Homo sapiens: one gene and its partner. The protein of the gene in region 1 interacts with the protein of each later gene in a biochemical or structural test. Each region holds a gene or a part of one and is shown in the gene's direction. Other genes may lie near its edges.

Region 1 (3,500 bases):
GTGAATCCATCGAGAGTGAGATTAGGCGAGAACGAGAGAGGCAGACAAACCCATCAGCCATGGTGAGTCTGCATCCTTTCCCCAGATGTGCCAATCATGGAGAGCCAGGCAGCAGCCACCACCATGCCCTGGAGTTGAGAGTAGAAGCTGTTGGAAAGATCATCTAACTGAGAAGAATTTTAATAGGGCATCAAAGATAAAGAATGCTGAGGTGAATCCATTCAATTTGGAATAAGGCCGAGAAGAGATGGTCAGGCTCCATTCTCAGTCTGAACCAAGCTCCATGAGGGAAATCAAAGTATGAGAGTGCAGCAAACACAGCAAGGTTTTTTTTGTTTTTTGTTTTTTGTTTTTTTTTTGAGACGAAGTCTCACTCTGTTGCCCAGACTGGAGTGCAGTGGCACGATCTTGGCTCACTGCAACTTCTGCCTCCCAGGTTCAAGCGATTCTCCTGCCTCAGCCTCCCGAGTAGCTGGGACTACAGGCACATGCCACCATGTCCGGCTAGTTTTTTGTATTTTTTTTTTAGTAGAAACGTGGTTTCACCACGTTAGCCAGGATGGTCTCGATCTCCTGACCTTGTGATGTGCCCACCTCGGCCTCCCAAAGTGCTGGGATTACAGGCGTGAACCACAGAGCAAGGTTTTGAGCTGAGATGAGACTCATATACTTATCCCTGATGGTTGGGGAAGGGATAGGGTCCACAGACCTCCCAAAATGAAAAGGCAAATTCATGTGTTTGTAAGTTCCATAAAGGTAAGATCTCTGTCATCTCACTTGTTTTCCACTATGTCTTGTGTTACCCTTAATTAATTCATTAAGTTCCAAACATGGGACTTAATGAGCAAATAAATGGCTTTCTTTCCCTTTTGAAGGGTCTGTGACATCCCTTCTCTCTCCCATAAAAGCTTAACAACTACTGATGAACTAATCCTAGGAGGTAGTCACATAAGTCACAGAAATTGGCCTCTCAATGGAAGAGATAGGTTTTGAGCTGGGCTGTGAAGAGAGTAGAATTTGAATAAAGGGAATAAGCAGCCCAAATAATGTGCTCTAGTAGTAGGATTGCAATCATTGGGAAACCCTGGGTAGATTTAAGAGTATATATGTCACTGGAAGTGAGACCGCTAGGTAGGATGTAATCCAAATGTGGTAAGCACTGAAAGCCATTGGCATTTCCTTTTAAAGTATTAAGGTTTATTAAGGTATGATATAAATACAATAAAATTCACTCTTTCTATATACCATTTCCATGCTTTATGACAAGTGTGTGTAAGTTCTATAACTACTACCACAGTTGAGACTTAAAATTTCTACTATCTCAAAAAGTTTCCTTAGCCACTTCAGTCAACATCTCCCCTCCTTAAGCCCCATCACTGATGTGATTTCTGTCCCTACAGTTTTCCCTTTTCCAGAGTGCATTGACAAGTTTTTAAGCAGAGCAGTGACTCAATTTTAGGAAGCATGGCCTAGCATCTTACCTCAGGTTGGATTGGAAGGGCAAGGAGACCAATAAACTGCAGTAATGGGAGGCCTGGGATGAAATCCAGGCTGGGCTTTAACTAGCCCTAGTGATCTGTGTTTACCAACTATAGGAGGTAGAAGAGGATGATCCAGTGCCTGAGATCCGTCGAGATCACTTTGAAGAAGCCATGCGCTTTGCGCGCCGTTCTGTCAGTGACAATGACATTCGGAAGTATGAGATGTTTGCCCAGACCCTTCAGCAGAGTCGGGGCTTTGGCAGCTTCAGGTAAGTTGGTTGGGAGCATTAGACAGTGCTTAAGTTACTTTGGGGACCTACACCAAAAGGGATGGGAGTCCTAAGGAAGCTAGAGGGGTAGTTGTGGAAATCTTACACAGGCCCTGTCCTAACCCTCTTTTTTGGCTTTGCTCTTGTACACAGATTCCCTTCAGGGAACCAGGGTGGAGCTGGCCCCAGTCAGGGCAGTGGAGGCGGCACAGGTGGCAGTGTATACACAGAAGACAATGATGATGACCTGTATGGCTAAGTGGTGGTGGCCAGCGTGCAGTGAGCTGGCCTGCCTGGACCTTGTTCCCTGGGGGTGGGGGCGCTTGCCCAGGAGAGGGACCAGGGGTGCGCCCACAGCCTGCTCCATTCTCCAGTCTGAACAGTTCAGCTACAGTCTGACTCTGGACAGGGGGTTTCTGTTGCAAAAATACAAAACAAAAGCGATAAAATAAAAGCGATTTTCATTTGGTAGGCGGAGAGTGAATTACCAACAGGGAATTGGGCCTTGGGCCTATGCCATTTCTGTTGTAGTTTGGGGCAGTGCAGGGGACCTGTGTGGGGTGTGAACCAAGGCACTACTGCCACCTGCCACAGTAAAGCATCTGCACTTGACTCAATGCTGCCCGAGCCCTCCCTTCCCCCTATCCAACCTGGGTAGGTGGGTAGGGGCCACAGTTGCTGGATGTTTATATAGAGAGTAGGTTGATTTATTTTACATGCTTTTGAGTTAATGTTGGAAAACTAATCACAAGCAGTTTCTAAACCAAAAAATGACATGTTGTAAAAGGACAATAAACGTTGGGTCAAAATGGAGCCTGAGTCCTGGGCCCTGTGCCTGCTTCTTTTCCTGGGAACAGCCTTGGGCTACCCACCACTCCCAAGGCATTCTTCCAAATGTGAAATCCTGGAAGTAAGATTGCACCTTCTTCCTCTCCTGATCAACATCGGTATGATGTCTCCTGTTGCCTCACCCTTTGTCTGCAGTATCACTGGATAGGACTGGTGGAAAGGGAGCAGCCTGACAGAGCTCCAAATGTGGAGAATATGGCATCCCTCCACCTATATTTGATGTGGACGGTAAGGCTAGGCCTGCAGGATCCCTTATCCTGACCAAAGACTGTGTTGGGGTGCCATTTGAAAATCGCAGGGTTGCAAAAGAATACAATCTTACTTGCAGGTGGATATTCTCTATACTCTCTTTTAATGCATCTAAAAATCCCAAACATCCCCTGGTTGGTGATCACTTACAGTTGTGTCCACCTTTATTTTATGTACTTTGATTAAAAAAAAAAAACTTTTTGTTAATATAAAATTTTAGTATTGAATTTTTTTTTTTTCCAAACAGAAAATAGACTATCCTCTTCAACAGTAATCACTTAGTGCTTCTAGGGTCAGTACAGTGATGCCTTACCCAGAGAGAGAGTAGTGCAGAGAAAATAAATTACTAAATTAAATATATGTTGATTGGCTTTGGGACATAATCTCAAAAGACAGTCCTGAACACCGTAATTTTGAATAAAATACTGTAATCTCCAAAGATCAAAATCCCTAAAGTCTAAAATTCTGAAAATCACAATCCCAAAAGGTCAAAATCCCAAAATACAATTCTGGAAGAAATACTAAACATTCTTCGAAAATTTACTTACATTTTTAAAAGCGTATTTATTTGAGAAACAACACAACAGAACGTTTCATAGGCCACTACACGATAAAATAGGGAATAGTAACATTTTTGCAAGATAAACACTCA
Region 2 (3,000 bases), on another chromosome or scaffold:
CAAGTGGATTCATGTTTGATTTTCAACATAAAATGGAATAACCAAAAACAAGACTCATTGCAAGTACCGGTTTACCAGCAACAATTTGAGATTCCTTGAAATACAGCTGCTTTGCTGGGTATCTGTGGGAATGACGGACTTCAGGGTGCTTGCTGTATGGTGAACTGAACTTGAGTGAATCTTAGCAGCCTCAGTAGAACAATAATTTTAAGAGTGTATTAAAGAAGAGCTTCAAACAATATAGTCCAAACTGAACCTCTAGGGAGCCATAGCAGCCTGACATGTAGTAATCAAAAAATCTTTGAGCAAAATCTTCTGTAGAATATTAGTTACATAAAGCCAACATGCAAATTGTTCTCAGTCCTGAAAATAGTGGTTACAGCCACAACCTAAAGACAAGTTCTATTTTTATATATTGTGAATAGTATGGCTTATGCCTAAACCGTAGACACACAGGTCTTGTTCTCACGCAAAGGGTGTATATGCTCATATGTGCTTACAACAAGGAGCAAGGATGGGTCACTGGTGGGAGGAGGGGTTGGGTGGTATATATAGAATACAGGAGAAAACCTCCATGATTTCTGACTTTACTAGCACTCCTGCTAAAGTAGGATAGCAACACTCACCTTTTAGAGACCTACACATTACAAAACCGAGCTTACAGAATGCACACAATAAATTTAAAAAAAATTTTTTAAAGCCAACAGGCAAAAATATGTCTATCAAATAACTCACGATGTTAGGAACAATCAACAGTTGTAAAAAAAATTTTTTTTCTCTACACTAAACAAGTGAATGTTTGCTTTTTTTTTTCCTTTTAAATAAATTATAGTTACTGATTGTGTTCATATTATACATAGTGGGATCAGAGTTGGAGGTTTTTTATAAATTCTATTGTTGTGGTACATTTTAATTTACTAAACTGAGTATACATATTCTTGGTAACTTTCTACCACCTCTAAAAATGAGTCTTTGACAGAATATATTGTGCAAAAAAAGATGATAGGAATTTTCTGTATAAATAGGGTGTTTTATCTCCATATACTGTTCTTTAACATAAGAGACCTTTTTTATTTTGCTCATAGTATGTTTGAATGTTTAAACATTTAAGTATTAAATCATGAACTCTATCTTATTCTTTAACTTTCTAGAGTCTTAAAAGCTGATGATGCCTTTAGGACTGAAAATTTTAAGGCTTTAATAAATGCTGTCAGACATGTTCAACAGCTACTATAAACCTTCTCTTAAACAGTTAAAACCACAGTTCTGACCCAGACCCACACAATATAATTAAGGCAGTTATTGGAGTAAGCTAGATTTGAAGTTAACGTAATTTCAGCCTATCATATTTTATACCCACACTTTTGAGGGACATTTGAATCTAGTGAGCTCTGAAAATATACAAGATATAGAAGTGCATATTGAGAGATAAATTTGAGTATATCTGTTAATGTTTATGTCTTAAGATTACTTTCCTTAAGTCTTTTAGTTCTTTTAATTCACCTTTCTTCCAGTAACCTCTCTGTTTGGCTCTTCTTTCCCAGATATCCCCCTTTGCTAGCCATTCCTTTAAAGGAGCAGTTAACCTGTGTGTAACCCAGATGCCTAATAGTTTAGGATGGGTGAAACTAATGACTCCCGGGGAACACTGGTGGAGTCCTGAGTCCCACATCCTCCTTACAAGCGGCTGTAAGAGGAGCATGCAGTAGGAACATATATGAACACCAGAGGATGTTATAGTGGCGTTGTCCAAACTTGAGTGGAGCAATTGACAGTTCCACATCTAGGTTTGTCAACAACAAATAACAGTTGGCTATACATATCTACTCTGAGTAGTTTAAGAACATTTTCTTTGGAGAGTGATTGTTCAGTTGTTACATAATCTCTAACTCACTGATTCTAAAAATTTTCAGATTAAATTAATGGGCATACCTGGAAGAAAAATAGCTATAGGTTGGTTGTCAAATAGATGGTGATTAGAATACTATTGGCGATTGATTTTTTTACTTGATATGAGTAAAGACCAGAATACAGAATAGTACATATAATAGGATATTCCATGGCAGATGTGTTTTATATGGTACTTTCAACTATTTGCCCCTGAGCTAGAGTATGAGTTAGATGTTTCTAAAAAGATCAAGTCTAACATGAATATATATATATATATATGTGTGTATACAGATCTTTAATAATATTTACTAAATGTTTTTATTTTTATTTTTTTTTTTAGACAGAGTCTCGCTCTGTCACCCGGGCTGGAGTGCAGTGGCACCATCCCGCTCACTGCAACCTCTGCCTCCCTAGTTCAAGCAATATTCATGTATCAGCCTCCCGAGTAGCTGGGATTACAAGTGTGCACTAACATGCCCGGCTAATTTTGGTATTTTTAGTAGAGATGGGGTTCCACCATGTTGGCTAGGCTGGTCTTGAACACCTAACCTCAAGTGATCCGACTGCCTCAGCCTCCCAAAGTGCTGGGATTACCGGTGTGAATGACTGTGCCCGGCACTAAATGCTTTTATGAATCCAGAAACTGTGCCCCCAGAGAGCTTATGATTTGATGAAGATAGGTCAGAGTATGGGCAGTATAAAGGAGTATAGTATAAAAAAATAAAAAGGAGCATTGGCAATTCAAGGTGGGATGAAATTGTGGAGGATTTTTTCTTTTCTTTTTTTTTTTTTTTTTTTTTTTTTTGAGATGGAGTCTTGCTCTGTCGCCCAGGCTGGAGTGCAATGGCGCAGTCTCGGCTCACTGCAAGCTCCGCCCCCCGGGTTCACACCATTCTCCTGCCTCAGCCTCCTGAATAGCTGGGACTACAGGCGCCTGCCACCACGCCCAGCTAATATTTTGTATTTTTAGTAGAGGCAGGGTTTCACTGTGTTAGGATGGTTTCGATCTCCTGACCTCGTGATCCACCTGCCTCAGCCTCCCAAAGTGCTGGGATTACAGGCGTGAGCCACCGTGCCCAGCCTAATTGTGGAGGATTTTTAAAGCTAATA

Evidence for each region. The genes of interacting proteins can lie anywhere in the genome.
Region 2: the proteins of VCP (region 1) and NGLY1 form a complex in vitro, tested with the Homo sapiens proteins (2 studies listed by BioGRID).

What each region holds. Positions count from the first base shown.
Region 1 is NC_000009.12:35,055,626-35,059,125, reverse strand, and holds the end of VCP (transitional endoplasmic reticulum ATPase), read left to right. Parts: coding exon 1-62; intron 63-1,595; coding exon 1,596-1,750; intron 1,751-1,903; coding exon 1,904-2,009; 3' UTR 2,010-3,062; downstream 3,063-3,500. UniProt on the Homo sapiens protein: Necessary for the fragmentation of Golgi stacks during mitosis and for their reassembly after mitosis. Involved in the formation of the transitional endoplasmic reticulum (tER).
Region 2 is NC_000003.12:25,721,444-25,724,443, reverse strand, and holds part of NGLY1 (peptide-N(4)-(N-acetyl-beta-glucosaminyl)asparagine amidase), read left to right. Parts: intron 1-1,544; coding exon of another isoform or gene 1,545-1,709; exon of another isoform or gene 1,710-1,767; intron 1,768-3,000. UniProt on the Homo sapiens protein: Specifically deglycosylates the denatured form of N-linked glycoproteins in the cytoplasm and assists their proteasome-mediated degradation. Cleaves the beta-aspartyl-glucosamine (GlcNAc) of the glycan and the amide side chain of Asn, converting Asn to Asp.